2 separate regions of the Homo sapiens genome follow, and region 2 is linked to region 1. The links come from fine-mapping of genetic effects on gene expression. A gene starts in region 1. The other region holds a variant in brackets. All regions are shown on one strand. Distances are between the middles of the regions.

Region 1 (8,298 bases):
AACAGGGGGTCTCTGGACTAGGGAAACACCAGAGACACAGAGGACTGAAGTACCATATTGTAAACAGGATTAAGCTGGCCTATAAACTGAATATTAGCAACCTAGCTTTCTTCTCCCACTTAGTAACCAGAATGCTATTAATCAGGCTTATACACACCCCATCCCAGTAGAAGAATCCTGGGAGAATCTAACCAGCCAAAGAGCACAGGTCTAAATGAGGCAGGCGGCAAGACTTTCTTCAAAGAAATGGCCCAGTCATTTTAATGAACCTGATAGTCTTCAATGCTACCCACGGGTTTTTAAATAACTTTAAATAGGAGCAGACAACCAATGATCACTGAACAAATAAGGAAAGTTTCTAACATGAATATGCTCTATGATTTCCATAAACTACAGCAAAGGCCATTTTTGAACTTCTTTTACTGCCGGGCGCGGTGGCTCACCAACATGGAGAAACCCCGTATCTACTAAAAATACAAAAGTAGCCGGGCCTGGGGGCGCATGCCTGTAATCCCAGCTGCTGGAGAAGGCTGAGGCAGGAGAATCACTTGAACCTGGGAGGCGGAGGTTGCGGTGAGCAGAGATTGCGCCGTTGCGCCTGGGCAACAAGAATGAAACTCCGTCTCAAAAAAAAAAAAAAAAAAAAAGGAGAACATAAGGAGAACATACAAACAAAAGAAACTTGGAAGAAACCAAGACTAAACGGGATAAAAACTTTTTCTTAATGTTACTATTATCCTCAGAGAGATAAAAGAATATATTTAATCCAAGAAAATAATTTTATGTTTTTAAAAAGAACAATTAGAACAGCCTGTGGAAATTAAAAATATGATATTAAAATTTAAAACTCCAAAGAGTTGGAAAATTAGGATGAGAAAAATCTCCTGGAAAGTAGAACAAAAAGACAGAAATAGAAAATAAGAAAGGGTTACCAAAAAAATATTTAAAAATTAGGCAGGCCAGGTGCGGTGGCTCACGCCTGTAATCCCAGCACTTTGGGAGGCCGAGGCGGGCAGATCACCTGAGGTCGGCAGTTCGAGACCAGCCTGACCAACATGGAGAAAGGAGAAACCCCATCTCTACTAAAAATACAAAATTAGCCAGACAAGGTGGCACATGCCTGCAATCCCAGCTACTTGGGAGGCTGAGGCAGAAGGATCGCTTGAACCCGGCAGGCAGAGGTTGTGGTGAGCTGAGATCATGCCATTGCACTCCAGCCTGGGCAACAAGAGCAAAACTTCGTCTCAGAAAAAAAAAAAAAAAATTAAGCATAGTGGCACACACCTATAATCCTAGCTACTTGGGAGGCTGGCATGTGAGGATCCCTTGAGCCGAGGAGGTGGTGGCTGCAGTGAGCTATGATCTCACCACTGCACTCCAGCCTGGTTGACAGAGAAAGATCCTGTCTCTAAAAATAAATTTAAAAAATTTTTTTAAAAAGAAAAGAAGGCCAGGCGCAGTGGCGCATGCCTGTAACCCCAGCACTTTGGGAAGCTGAGGCGGGCAGATCACTTAAGACCAGCAGTTTGAGACCAGCCTGGCCAACATGGTGAAACCCCCTCTCTACTAAAAATACAAAAATTAGCCAGGTATGGTGGCAGGCATCTGTAATACCAGCTACTCGGGAGGCTGAGCCGGGAGAATGGCTTGAATCTGGGAGGCGGAGGTTGCAGTAAGCCGAGATAGTGCCACTGCACTCCGGCCTAGGCTGCTGAGCAAGACTCCATCTCAAAACAAAAACAAAAACAAAAATAAAACTTAGCCAGGCATGGTGGTGGAGGCCTGTAGTCCCAGCTACTTGGGAGGCTGAAGCAAGAGAATCTCTTGAACCCAGGAGGTGGAGGTTGCAGTGAGCCAAGATCGTGCAACTACACTCTAGCATGGGCAACAGAGTGAGACTCTGTCTCCAAAAAAAAGAAAAAAAATACATTAGAGGAGACTCCGTAAAATGTGATATCCAGACCTTAGGAGTATTCACATGACAGAATAGAGGAAATACATCATCAAACAATTCAAGAACATTGTTTAGAATTCAAGGGCATGGTTTCCAAATTAAAAGACACATTGGAGAGTCCAGTACAATGCAAATTTGGGCTCAACAATGCCAATTATCATTAAGTTTCAGAACACTAGAATAAGAAAATTTCGAATATGTTTTTAGAGAGGAAAGAATAGATCAAAACCAAGAAGCAGGCATCAGACTACTGGCTGCTAAAAGACGATGGAGCAACAGAGCAATGCCTCCAAGACTCTGAGGAAAAATTATGTCCAACCAATCAAGTGTGAGGGTAAAAACAAAGAAATTTTCAGACATCCAATCTCTTGAAATTTTTACTCTCCTCATACTTTTTATCTGGAAACTATTGGAACATGTGTTCCACCAAATGAGCCAAAAATGAGAAGATGTGAAATCAGGAAAAAGAATACCCAACTCGAAAGAACGGGGAAGGGAAACCCCAGAATGGTGGTGAAAGGCGATCAGATAAGAAGGCTCCAGAAGAGGTAGCACCAAGGAGATGAAACTGAATACATTGAGAGGAGATTTTCCACATACTATATTGTATTATGGAATTTCACTCTATGATTTCCATAAACTACAGCAAAGGCCATTTTTGAACTTCTTTTACTGCACACGTTAACAGTAGGAATTAAAATATTTTTTGAATAAATGAAAGAATGGAATACCTGAATTTGTACAGTACAGTATACACTTTGATAAGGGCTTTAGGCCAGGCACGGTGGCTCACGCCTGTAATCCCACACTTTAGGAGGCCGAGGCAGGTGGCTGGCTTGAGTTCCAGACCAGCCTGGCCAACATAGTGAAACCCCGTCTCCACTAAAAATACAAAAATTAGCCGGGCGTGGTGGCAGGTGCCCACAATCCCAGCTATTTGGGGGACTGAGGCAGGAGAATCGCTTGAACTCAGGAGGCGTAGGTTGCAGTGAGCTGAGATCGCGCCACTGCACTCCAGCCTGGGCAACAGAGTGAGACTCCGTCTCAAAAGAAAAAAAAAGGACTTTAAGGTAGATACAGAGGCTTCAGTATCCTGATGACTCTCATTCATTCTGTATGAACGATACTGGCGACACTGATTCACTCATCTACTTGAAGACCAAGAGCAGAATCATATTATGCTTTGAGAGGGGCACAGGGTAGCCTATTGTTAGGCAAATAGACCGCAGCAAGATTGTCTAAAACCAAATTCCATTTCATCATTTAGTATCTGTGTAACTTGGTCAAGTGACTTAACCTCTCTAACCTTTGATTCCCTAACTTGAAAATAGGGTTATTAATTCACAGGGTTACTGTGAGGATGGAACTAATGCCTGGGATTCCACATTATCATTTCCTCGAGCTTTGGAATTCTAATTATAAATTCTAAAGTCTGAGATTACGGAAAAGCAGATGTGAGAAAGGAATTAAAAGCACCCACTGGAAGCCAGGATGTCTCCTAGGAGGGACTTGCTATTACCTAGCTGCGCAGCAACAGGCAATCGCTTGCCTACAAGTCTCACTTTCCGCGCCTGCACAGTCTCCATCTGCCCTGCCCTTGTACTCACTGGGCCGGGCAAGCTGGGGAGGCCTAAGCGGACTGGGAAGTTAGGCTTTCCCTCCACTTCACCAGTCGGCTGCCCCTGCGGAAACCGGCCCGACACACCTCGCTCCTAAAGCCAGTTGCGGTGGTGGTGGCGGTTGGGGCTTTTTTTGGCCACGAGAGGGCAGCATTTCCCCCGGCCAACCACACACGTACCCCTAGCAACAGCAAACCCAGCTGCAACAGAACAAAAGACCGAAGTCCTCGAGCTTCCCTTCCATCTTAGGGCTCACGCCGCCCCGGTTAGGTTTCATTAGAGCAGCGGCTTTTCAAGGCTCGTCGGGCACGGAGGGCGGAGCGAGGGAGCTCTCGCGAGATCGCCGCCGGAAGTGGGTGGTGGCGGGGACGCAGCGGCTCCCTCCCGGAAAGCGAGCGTATCTCCCGAGCCGTTGCCACTGACAGCCGCGGGCGCTCCCATCTGAGTAAGAGCCAGCCCGTCCGCGGCCTCTCCAGCCCCGGGTTCGCGCTCTCGACTCTCCTGCCTGCCCAGCTGCGCGGCGGAGCGGAGCGAGGCGCGGCCTGCGAGTCCCCGGCAGCCCCCGACCCCTCCCTCGGCGCTGCGTGTAGGCCGCGCCCTCAGGCCCAGTCCGCGGTGCCCCGGCGGGTGATGCCAAATACAGCCATGAAGAAAAAGGTGCTGCTGATGGGGAAGAGCGGGTCGGGGAAGACCAGCATGAGGTCGATAATCTTCGCCAATTACATTGCTCGCGACACCCGGCGCCTGGGGGCCACCATTGACGTGGAACACTCCCACGTCCGATTCCTAGGGAACCTGGTGCTGAACCTGTGGGACTGTGGCGGTCAGGACACCTTCATGGAAAATTACTTCACCAGCCAGCGAGACAATATCTTCCGTAACGTGGAAGTTTTGATTTACGTGTTTGACGTGGAGAGCCGCGAACTGGAAAAGGACATGCATTATTACCAGTCGTGTCTGGAGGCCATCCTCCAGAACTCTCCTGACGCCAAAATCTTCTGCCTGGTGCACAAAATGGATCTGGTTCAGGAGGATCAGCGTGACCTGATTTTTAAAGAGCGAGAGGAAGACCTGAGGCGTCTGTCTCGCCCGCTGGAGTGTGCTTGTTTTCGAACGTCCATCTGGGATGAGACGCTCTACAAAGCCTGGTCCAGCATCGTCTACCAGCTGATTCCCAACGTTCAGCAGCTGGAGATGAACCTCAGGAATTTTGCCCAAATCATTGAGGCCGATGAAGTTCTGCTGTTCGAAAGAGCTACATTCTTGGTTATTTCCCACTACCAGTGCAAAGAGCAGCGCGACGTCCACCGGTTTGAGAAGATCAGCAACATCATCAAACAGTTCAAGCTGAGCTGCAGTAAATTGGCCGCTTCCTTCCAGAGCATGGAAGTTAGGAATTCCAACTTCGCTGCTTTCATCGACATCTTCACCTCAAATACGTACGTGATGGTGGTCATGTCAGATCCGTCGATCCCTTCTGCGGCCACTCTGATCAACATTCGCAATGCCCGGAAACACTTTGAGAAGCTGGAGAGAGTGGATGGCCCCAAGCACAGTCTCCTTATGCGTTGAATATTGCCAAATGCTCTTTCTGAAAATGCTGAATTGCCTTTTTTGTTTGCATCCTTTATTTTTAATATTCATAATGTCGTGTGCTTAAAAGTGGGCTTTGAAGTGTGTGCTGCTTACTCCTTTCATCTTTCTCCCCGCTTCCCCAGTCTTTAAACATTGGACGCTATTTACTCAGCTACCCAGTAGAGCTTGAAGCTGACCTTTCTGAGAAGTTGGTATGGTGTAACACTAAAGTAGGTGGTTCGTGTGTGTTCTCATTACCTGGTTATGATAGATATGCACATCAAAGCCTTTACCAGTATCTTCCTGTATTCCGTATCAGATTGCAAAGACGGAATGTTACTATTTTATCAGCAAGGTATTAAAATGCATTTATAAATTCTTCTTGGCTTCATTCATGAATAAACGTGTTAGCAATTTAAAACATGTCCTTATTTGAAATAACTTGAAAGTGCTTAATATGCAAATCTAAAAATTCTGACTGCCCACAAGTATTGCTTGACTGGCAAATTTGATTCTGTGAATTTAGCCCCCAGCACTTTAGTGATGTTTGGTAACAGCTGTAGAAGCGCTTATGCTATGGACTGAAGCTAGACCACCTGAGTTAGTATTCTGGTCCCTTCACTTACTAGCTCTGTGAACATGGGCAAATACTTAATTTCATTACACTTGTTTCCTCATTGGTAAAATGTGGGTCAGAATACTACTTTATAGCCAGTCGTGGTGGCTCACACCTGTAATTCCAGCACTTTGGAAGGCTGAAGTGGGAGGATCACCTGAGATCAGGAGTTCGAGACCAGCCTGGGCAATATAGAGAGACCCTCTCTCTACAAAAAAAAATTTTTTTTCATTAGCTAGGCGTAGTGGTGCGTGCCTACAGTCCTAGCTGCTTGGGAGGCTGAGGAGAGAGGATTGCTTGAGTCCAGGAGGTAGAGGCTGCAGTGAGGCATAATTGTGTCACTGGCCTCCAGTTTGGGTGACAAAGCAAGACCCTATCTCAAAAACAACAATAAAAAACCACTTGATAGGATGTTTAAAAGGATTAAATTCAACATGGTAAGTATTTAGGAATGGTGCCTAGCGCATAGCATACTCTGTTAACTACCATTACTACCTACTGAGCCATTCTTCCCCAAATTACTGGATATGAAACCTATTTGAATATTTGATCCCTTACTAAATGTCAGGTGTTCTTAAGCACTTGTGCATTTATCTTACTGAATCCTCACAACCTATGTGGTAGGTTACTTTGATCGCTATTTTAGCAGATGAGCAAACTATGATCTTATTAAGGTCATACAGCTAAACCCAGGCAATCTGACTACTGACTCTCCTAATCATTACACCCCATTACTTCCATTGAAAAGTTAACCATAAGAGTCATAGCTTTTTATTTATTTTTGGTTTGTTTGTTTGAGACGGAGTCTCGCTCTGTTGCCCAGGCTTGAGTGCAATTGCGCGATCTCACTGCAACCTCCGCCTCCCAGGTTCAAGCCATTCTCCTGCCTCAGCCTCCCAAGTAGCTGGGACTACAGGCATGTGCCACCACGCCCAGCTCATTTTTGGTATTTTTTAGTAGAGACGGGGTTTCACCACTTTGGCCAGGCTGGTCTGGAACTCCCGACCTCAAGTGATCCACCCATCTCAGCCTCCCAAAGTGCTGGATTACAGCCATAAGCCACTGCACCCGGCAATTTTTTTTGTTCTTATAACTTGCACATATCAGCACTGATGGGTCCTAGCTTTTTAAATGTAGATTATTCCTTCATATAATTCCAAATTTACATAGTGGGTAAGCTGAAGCCCAGGAAGCTAAGTGACCTCCCTCAAGGAATAGAGTTTCACTCATTTTGGGCAAGATCACTTTCCCATTTGTATTTCTCTAGAAATTGGATAATACTGAAACAGATTCTTAGATCACCTACTTTTAAGGAAGGATTCTGAGGTTCCTAATTTGGATTGGCAATGTGGTGTAGTAAAATGGACAAACAGATCTAAAATGTCCCATTCCACTTCCAGCAATAGCTGCCTTAAGGATTGTTTGAAAAGAAATCTAAGTATTTTAGAGCGAAGAGACCTGTGATCAACTCTAAGCCTTTCATTTTACACTCGAGGTGCTATCTTTGTATGGACAGTAAACATAAGTGATAGGGCTTTAGAATTTCTAAGGCTTTATAAAATTATTTAATGTTCATTAAACCCTTTCTAGCAGCAGATGTGGATGACGCTACTCATGAAGAGTAAGAAGCTATTCAGGTGTAATTTATAAAAATTACCTAATTAGGGCCATTGGCAATACATTAGTATAAAGACTCCAGATGTGTAAACTGACAGTATAGATATAACCTTAAAAATTCATTTTAAAATACTATATACTGTAAATCTAGTAATTAAAATGGAAGTAACAAAATATGTTGACCTGAATCACTGAACCTCTCAAATTTGTTGATCAGGTTATTAATATAACTTTACATGTGATCATCTTATGATTTGCAGGGGCATAGTTCTTTTTGAGATTATATAGGAAATTCCAGAGCCAGATAGTATAAAATATTTATTGAAAACAACAGTATTTAAAACATTTACAGAGAGTCCCATAGAGGATTCTCAAATATTTTAAACTTAGGATGCAGACTGCTATTCACAATGCATAAAGAAAAAGGTGATCTCTAGAGCAACTATGTATCTGCAACATAAAAGAAACATTTACTTCAATGCTTTTACATTGAGGAAAACGTCATTAAACGTATTTTAATTTTAGTACTCTCACAGTAGGAAGATAATAGTCTGCTTTTACACAGGTCTCCAGAATTCCTGTTTTTCCTTTAGATAAATTTGACTTCATAGTCAAGAGTCTCATGGTAAAGAAAAGGTATCAAAATACTCATATTTTTGTTTTCAGCTCAATTTCCCCCAAATGTTAACTTCAGCTATTCTTTATTCCACTTGATGACATTTTTCATGTTTAGCAACATTACATGGTTGTCCTCTTTAAACATTTAAAATAATTAGAACATTTTAGCATTATCTCAGGTTTCAAGCTGATGTATGTCAGTTTATATACCTTTGTATCTTACAAATAGTAAAACAAAGTACATTCTATATGTCTGATATTAATGTAATAAGAAATCCACTTAGAGTAATAAATTAGCC
Region 2 (8,333 bases), 81 kb after region 1:
CCACACCCACACAACCCCACTCCCTCTTTTGAGGCAAAGTTTCAGAGCTTATGTGTAAACTTGCAATACTCAGGAGGGAGAAGTAAAGTTGTTGACATACTTCTCTTGTTTCTCCGAGTATCTGTTAACAAAAATGCTAGCCAAGCCGGACGCGGTGGCTCACGCCTGTAATCCCAGCACTTTGGGAGGCCGAGGGGGGTGGACTGCTTGATGTCAGGAGTTCAAGACCAGCCTGACCAACGTGGTGAAACCCCGTCTCTTCTAAAAATACAAAAATTAGCCGGGCGTGGTGGCGGGCGCCTGTTATCCCAGCTGCTCTGGAGGCTGAGGCAGGAGAATCGCTTGAACCCGGGAGGCGGAGGTTGCAGTGAGCCTAGATGGCGTCACTGCACTCCAGCCTGGGCGACAGAGCGAGACTCCGTCAAAAAAAAAATGCGGTTTTCTAACGCGTTTCCCTTTCGATAATGTCCCTTCGACAAATATTGTTTTCCCACAACCACCCAAGCAGGCCAAGGGACATTCGATAGCAATCGCCCTAAATCTGTTGGCAGGAAAGAAGCCTCAACGCACAAAGGCAAGGGTCGAAAGCGCGGGTTCAGCAGACCGCCCCTACCCAGCCAGGACCTGGAAGCCGCGAGGCGAGCGGGGGGTCTCGGACCATCACCCCCGCGTCCCGTCCACCTTTGAGCCCCGCGGGGAGCAGAGCAGCGGTCCCAAGGCCCCGGGGAGCCCCCCACCCCAACTGGGCGCCGCTGGGGGCCCGGGACCGGTTCGCTGGGGCACCCACTGGGCGCGCACTCACCGACGGACTGCAGCGAAAGGCGAAGAGCAGGCGCGTCCCGAAGACGACTCCGGCTGCCACGACCCGGTCAAAGCGTGGGGCCCGCGGGCGCCCGGGCTATAAACCCCGCCTCGCCGCCCCTCCCCAAGCCTCCGCAGCACGTGACCCGCGGCAGCACGCCCTGTCCCAAGCCCGAGTGTCACCCTCGGGCACGTCCCGGCGCCCTCCCCCAACGCCGGCCCTCCTAGAGTGGTGGGGGCCCGGTCGGGTTGAGAGGGTGTGCTGCCTGGGCGAGGGGCCCCGCCACGGGGAGAGGAGCCTGTCGGGAGCCGGGCGGGGGCCCGGCCTGGGGAGGCTGGGAGTTGGAGGTAGCCCTGCCTGGAGTCGGGGCGCTGCCTGGAGTCGGGGCGCTGCCTGTGGTCGGGGTCCTGCCTGTGGTCGGGGTCCTGAGAGGCCCGGGGCAAATGGGGATGGCGCCCAGGCCGGCTTTGGGGTTTTGAAAAATGCAAACAAATTCACACCAACTTGTTGAACGGCGTTAGTCCTCAGAATAGAACTCTAAAAATGGAAGCGGTGGCTCACGCCTGTAATCACAACACTTTGGGATGCTGAGGCGAGAGGATCTGTCGAGCCTAGGAGTTCGAGACCAGCCTGGCGAAGATTTTTATTTTATTTTAAAAAATAGCCCAGCGTGGTGTCGTGCGCCTGTGGCCCCAGCTACCTGCGAGGCTAAGATGGGAGGATCGCTTGAGCCTGGGAGGTCGAGGCTGCAGTGAGCCGAGATCGCGTGGCGCTGCACAATGGCTTCTACGCTGTTATTTTTAGCGAAGTAATAACTTTTAAAAGTTTTGTGGCGGCTGGGCGCGGTGGCTCACGCCTGTAATCCTAGCACTTTGGGAGGCCGAGGCGAGCGAATCACCAGCCTGGCCAACATGGCGAAACCCCGTCTCTCTCAAAATACAAAGAAAGCAGCCCAGCGTGGTGGCGCGCGCCTGTAGTCCCAGCTAGTCCCGGCTGTTTAGCGGGGTTGGGGGCAGGCGGGTGGGTGGCTGAGGTGAAAGAATCTTTTGAGCCCAGGTGGTCGAGGCTGCAATGAGTCGAGATCGCGCCACTGTACCACTGCACCCCAGCCTGAGTGACTGAGACCCTGTCTAAAAAAAAAAAAAGAAAAGAAAAAAGAAAAAGAAAACAAAAAACTTAACTCCAGATCACTCCAGAATGACAGCTGCCTAGGGTTATGTGACATAGGCAACTTTATACGTGCAGGGTTATGCATTGTTTTTCAAAGACAACTTAAAACGTCATCTGAGTCCCAGTTGTGTTTTTTTGTTGTTGTTGTTTTGTTTGTTTGTTTCTTGTGTAAAACGCACAGATTTGGAACGAGATTATTTGAGCAGACAAGTTGCGCCAGCGCCCGAGGCCAGATAGGGCTCGTGGGACTTCTTCCCCCGTGAGTGGCGGGGGATTTCCAGATGAAGCTGTCCGGCCTCGGCCCCCACTCCCCCCCCCCGGCCCCCGACACAGCTCGCAGGGAGGATACAGCAGAGAGGAGGGTTGGGAGGTGGGAAGGGAGCAGGCGCTGGCGCCGCGGGTCCGCCCCCTGAGAGGCCCACAGCGTTGGAGTCCCTGGCTCCAGCCAGGAGGGACTGGCTTTGTGAAGCTTTGGAGTTGTAACTGTAGGAAGCTCTCAGAGACTTTTACCCCAATTTGTTTTCATTTTCTGTTGTTGTTGTTGTTGTTGTTGTTTTTTGAGACGGAGTCTCGCTCTGTCGCCAGGCTGGAGTGCAGTGGCGCGATCTTGGCTCACTGCAACCCCAGCCTCCCGGGTTCAAGTGATTCTCTTGCCTCAGCCTCCCGAGTAGCTGGGACTACAAGCGCGGGCCACCACGCCCAGCTAATTTTTGTATTTTTAGTAGAGACGGGGTTTCACCATGTTGGCCAGGATGGTCTCGATCGCTTGACCTCGTGATCCGCCCGCCTTGGCCTCCCAAAGTGCTGGGATTACAGGCGTGAGCCACCGCACTCGGTCTAACCCAGTTTCTTAACCAATCTTGCATGCACACAGATACTGTTGATCATATTTAAAGCTCCAAACGGACCCATTAAAATGGTATCCCTTATCCCATTATACCTGAATATATAATAGTACTTACTTAGCAAGAAAAATTAAAGTATTTTTACCCCTCCTCCCCACATGTAATTCAAAATAAAATACTAAGCCATAAATACTGAACCATAAAATGTTATGAAGTCCAAAAATGTTCTGGTTTGGGTTTTTTCCTATGTTGCCATCTTCAGTGTTTTAAGTAATTAAATTATTATGTTTTTCTTTTCTTTTTCGTGTTCCGGCGCTGTTTGTTCCCTAAGCAAATGTTTGCTCTGCTTATTGATAATCCATCCCTGCTCTAATGACCTCTTACTTTGCATCAGAAGACTCTCGCCCTTTCACCTACAAAATGCCTCCATCTTTTCCTTTTTTGTTTTAAACCTGTGAGTCATTTCCTCACTTAAGGCTGAGCAAGCTTCTTTTTGCTTTTATTTGCCTGTGAAGCAGAGGGCCCCAGGGAATAATTTTGGGAACAAGAGACTCTTCAAGCCCACAAAGGATGAAGCACATCAAATTCTGCATCCCCAACTGTTTTTCAGCTTCGTGAGTCTGAGAACATGAAACCAGTGGCAAGAATAACACCCAAGGTGAGATGTGTAGTGAAGGAAACCAAAAAATTTTACCCCAAAATATACTTCTTTCACATATTTTGAGATATGGCTGTTCAGAGGACCTGCAGGCGGAAGTAGTCCTACGAAGCTGTTTGGTGTGTGTGTGTGTGTGTGTGTGTGTGTGTGTGTGTGTGTGTGTGTGTGTGAGAGAGGCTTGCAATATACAGAGAAAATCTGCATTGATGCAGCCAGGTGCTCTCTGAGGTTTTCCCTCGTCCAGATATAGGAAAGGTTAATGGACAGTCTGACACCTTTAAAGGTCTGAAAGAAACATCAACCATCTATTCTTTCCAATGGCTACTACCTGTGAGGTTTCATCTACATGAGCGGTCCCCAACCTTTTTGGCACCAGGGATAGGTTTCATGGAAGACAATTTTTCCATGGACCAGGGCAGGGGGATGGTTTTCAGGATGAAACTGTTCCACCTTAAATCATCGGCATTAGATTCTCATAAGGAGCCGCAACCTAGATCCCTTGCATGTGCAGTTCACAGCGGCGTTCTTGCTCCTAAGAGAACCTAATACCAGCTGCTGACCTGACAAGAGGCAGAGCTCAGGCGGTATTGCTCACTCACCCGCCACTCACCTCTTGCTGTGCGGCCCTATTCCTAACAGGAATGTAAATGGCCACAGTGTAAATGGCCCAAAGTTTGGGGACCCCAATCTACATAATGAAATGACTTTTGCTAGCCAAGTTTCCATTTCTGTCTTGCCACTAAATCCTGATTTACCACCATTCTCTGAGCCCCCAAACTTTCTGTAACCTCAGGAGGGGTATATAAGCTTCTGAGCCCACTGAGAGGTGGAGTAATTACTCTGTGGTTCCCCCACATGCCCAATAATACATTTACGTCTTTTTATAATAATACATGTATATCTTTTGACCTGTTAATTTGCTTTCCGCCAGTTGATTTTTCAGTGAACCTCCAGAGGACAAAGGAGACGTTTTTCCTTGGCCCCTGCAGTAGGTTGCCATTAGATAGGGTGTGTACAGTGTGGCAGTCCTGGG[G/A]AGTGGCAGGACATTACCAAGGATTTGGCCAACCTGAGATTCCTGGAGGTTTTCAGGGTTTTGTTTGGTTCCCTCCAGGATTCGATTTACCGTCATTCAGCATCTGGCTCCTGTCTCTTTCTCACCAGCTTCTTCTCCGGACTTTACCTGTGTGAAAGGAAAATAAATCTTGGGACCCCAAAATCACTGAACCAAAGGGAAAAGTCAAGCTGGGGACTGTGTCACACAAACCTCCTATTCAAAGATAAGCTACATAAGCCAGGCGCAGTGGTTCATGCCTGTAATCTCAGCCCTTTGGGAGGCTGAGGCAGGCGATCACTTGAACCCAGGAGTTTGAGACCAGCCTGGGCAACATGGTGAAATCCCGTCTCTACAGAAAATACAAAAGTTAGCCGGGTGTGGTGGCATGCGCCTGTAGTCCTACTTGCTGGGCTGAGGTGGAAGGATCATTTGAGCCTGGGTGGTCAAGGCTGCAGTTGGGGACCGCTATAATGGAGACACTGCACTCCAGCCTGGATAACAGAGTGAGACTCTGTCTCAAAAGAAAACAAAACAAAAAAGCTACATACCTCCCTCATAATTTGCCCACTAGGAAATTCCTTGTGGGCCCCAAGATCTTTACCCTAAAAAGTTCTGTTGAATTTCATCCTCACAATGTAAATTGATAGCTTATATTCACAGATGTGGGACATAGGACAGAACACAATAGCATCCCTCTGCTCACCTGAGACAAATTAATATTTGATTGCTCCCTCTGGCCTATGTTTATTTTATCTTATTTAAAAATGCAGATTCACTGAGCTAGATGAATGCGTGACTATTCCTCTACCCCCCCATCTCACATGTCAATGGCTAATCAAAGACTCAAAGGAATGCAACCATTTGCCTCTTACTGGCCCACACCCCTTAACAATTTCTCCTCTCCCCAGTATCCACTCCTTTCCCCTTTAGATATTGAAACCCTCAAAATCATCTTTGGAGAAAGGCACAGACCTGTCTCCCATGTGTGTGTCCTTACCCTTGGCAAAATAAACTTCTAAATTGATTGAGTCCTGTCTCAGATACTTTGTGTTGCACCTATCTTAAACTTTAAGCTCTAGTCACACAGATTTACTTACAGTCCTTTGAACACATCCTATTATAGGATTCCTGTATGTCATTGCTCATGCTGTCTCCACCTTGTTCACTGGGAATTTATCCTTCAAATTCCCACCTGAGGGTGGTGGACAGATGCCACCACCCCCAGGAAGACCTCCCGACTACCTTAGATGGAATCTATCACTCAGACATCTTTGCACCTCTGTACTTTGTACATTTATGCTTGCCTTTTTTTTTTTTTTTTTTTTTTTTTTTTGAGACGGAGTCTTCACTCTGGAGTGCAGTGGCACGATCTGGGCTCACTGCAAGCTCCGCCTCCCGGGTTCACGCCATTCTCCTGCCTCAGCGTCCCGAGTAGCTGGGACTACAGGTGCCCACCACCATGCCCGGCTAATTTTTTTGTATTTTTTAGTAGAGACGGGGTTTCACCGTGTTAGCCAGGATGGTTTCAACCTCCTGACCTCGTGATCCGCCTGCCTCAGCCTCCCAAAGTGCTGGAATTACAGGTGTGACCCACCGCACCCGGCCTATGCTTGCCTTTATCACACAATATTATTTATGTGTTCATACATTCTTTTTCCTTGAGGTCAAAAAACTTTTTTTCTTTTTGTAACCTCTAGTTAACATATAATAATGCCCGCACTGAGCAGGTGTTCACTAAGGTGTTGAATAAATAGTTGAAACTGTTTCAGCTTGTGAGTGCCCAATAATTTTTTTATAAATATTTCCTATTTTTTATTTGTTCTTTTCTTTCTTTCTTTCTTTTTTATTTATTTTGTGTTAGAGATGTGGTCTCACTATGTTGCCCAGGCTGGTCTTGAACTCCTGGCCTCAAGCAATCCTGCCTCAGCCTCCCAAAGGGCTGGGATTATAGGCATGAGCCACGGTGCCTGGCCCCAACTTATTATTTCTTAGAAGTCACTCTTAATAAAATTATCGTGGATTATCAGGTTAACCAGTACTCATAACTGACCTATATAAATGCTTTGCAGCAGTGGTTCTCAAAGTGGGGGTCCTGGGTCAATAGCATTAGCATCACGTGGGAACTTAGAAATGCAAATTCTCAGGCCTCACCCCAAACCTAGTAAATCAGAAATTCTGTGTGTGGGCCCTGCAATCTGTGTTTTGATAATTCCTTCAAGTGATTCTTATAATTTCTAAAGTTTGAAAGCTACTGTTTTACAAATGTGTTTTCTCATGGTGGTCTGGAAACTATCAGAATCACCGAAGATGTTTGTCAAACGTTATGCCTCCTCCCCCAGACCTACTGAGTCAAGATCTATGAGGGGTGGGGCCCAGAAGCCTGCATTTGTGACGATAGGTGCCACCACTTTACTCTTCACAAAGCACTTTCCCATGTCGCTCATATTTGAGCCTCACAACAGCCTGGAAACTTGATGGAGTGGGGTTATTACTCCCATCTTAACAGTAAAGAAACAGTCTCAGATAAGTTATATGATCTGGCTATAGTTTTATGACTAAGCAGCAAGCTAGGCAAAATTAGATCCCAGGGGCATGACCTGGGCTAGTTACCTAATTTCTTTTTGTCTTAGTTTCCTCATATGTAAAGTGGAGATAATAATAGCTCTTCATGTTTTACGTAAAGGTTTTATAAGGCTGAGTGCGGTTGCTCACAACTATATCCCAGCTCTTTAGGAAGCTGAAGCAGGAGGGTTGCTTGAGCCCAGGAGTTCAAGACCAACCCAGGCAACATAGGGAGACCCCATTTCTACAAAAAAAATACAAAAGTTAGCCAGGAATGTTGGCGTGTGCCTATAGTCCCAGCTACTAAGGAGGCTTACGCAGGAGGATCACTTGATCCCAGGAGGTAGAGGCTGCAATGAGCCATGATGGCGCCACTGCACTCCAGCATGGGCAGCAGAATAAGAAGGCCTCAAAAACAAAACAAAACAAAAAACAGTTATATGAGTGTTCATTGTACTGGTCTTTCAGCTTTTCTGTGGGTTTAGAAAACTGTTTCAAAATGAAAAGTTTAGGTTGTTATACAGTGATAAGAGAGAATGAAGAGACCCATAACTAACCACATATATGCAATGTAATGTAAATGAAATGAAAGCAGTTACCTACAGGTTCATACCATACAAAAACAAAGTAAGCTCTGCTGTAAAAAGTAAGGATGGTAGTTGTTCTGCAGGGAGTTGGGGGTGGGAAGACTAGTGACTGCTAGGGGCCTTTTGGTGCTGGTAACTTTTTATGTCTTATTCTGGAAGCTAGTTACATACATGTGTATGCTCTTTTGTGAAAATTCATCAAGCTGTACACTTATGACATATATGTTTTTGTATGGATCTTACACTTCCAATAAAAAGTTGTGAGCTGAGAATGGTGGCCGATGCCTATAATCCCCGCATTTTGGGAGGCCGAGGCAGGAGGATTGCTTGAGACTAGGAGTTCAAGACCAGCCTGCATAACACAACGAGACCCTATCTTTATTAAAAAAAAAAATTTTTTGGGGGGGGACAGTTTTGCTCTGTTGCCCAGGCTGGAGTGCAATGGCGCAATCTCGACTCACTGCAACCTCTGCCTCCCGGGTTCAAGCAATTCTCCTGCCTCAGCCTCCCGAGTAGCTGGGATTACAGTCATGTGCCATCATGCCTGGCTAATTTTTTTTTTTTTGAGATGGAGTCGCACTCTGTTGCCCAGGCTGGAGTGCAGTGGCATGATCTCAGCTCACTGCAACCTCCACCTCCTGGGTTCAAGCGATTC

Direction of the effects. Positions count from the first base shown, and alleles are read on the strand shown. Sizes are in standard deviations (SD) of each study's normalised expression.
As copies of A replace G in region 2, the expression in monocytes after LPS of the gene that starts at base 3,971 in region 1 goes down (moderate effect, 0.60 SD a copy in Quach 2016).

Evidence for each region.
Region 2: its variant is fine-mapped to the expression of RRAGA in monocytes after LPS (Quach 2016, PIP 0.95).

The regions. Positions count from the first base shown.
Region 1 is chr9:19,045,457-19,053,754 of GRCh38, forward strand. It overlaps RRAGA (Ras related GTP binding A), which reads left to right and starts at 3,971. Exons shown (of 1, transcript NM_006570.5): 1 at 3,971-5,569. The coding sequence starts at 4,204. The coding sequence ends at 5,145. HAUS6 (HAUS augmin like complex subunit 6) reads right to left here. Exons shown (of 17, transcript NM_017645.5): 17 at 7,685-8,298. It also overlaps a transcript of SAXO1 not described here. RefSeq lists an enhancer at 3,911-4,432 and a silencer at 4,040-4,229.
Region 2 is chr9:19,126,617-19,134,949 of GRCh38, forward strand. PLIN2 (perilipin 2) reads right to left here and starts at 876. Exons shown (of 8, transcript NM_001122.4): 1 at 803-876. RefSeq lists enhancers at 122-632, 633-1,142 and a silencer at 655-1,214. The variant G/A (reference allele first, on the strand shown) is at 4,509.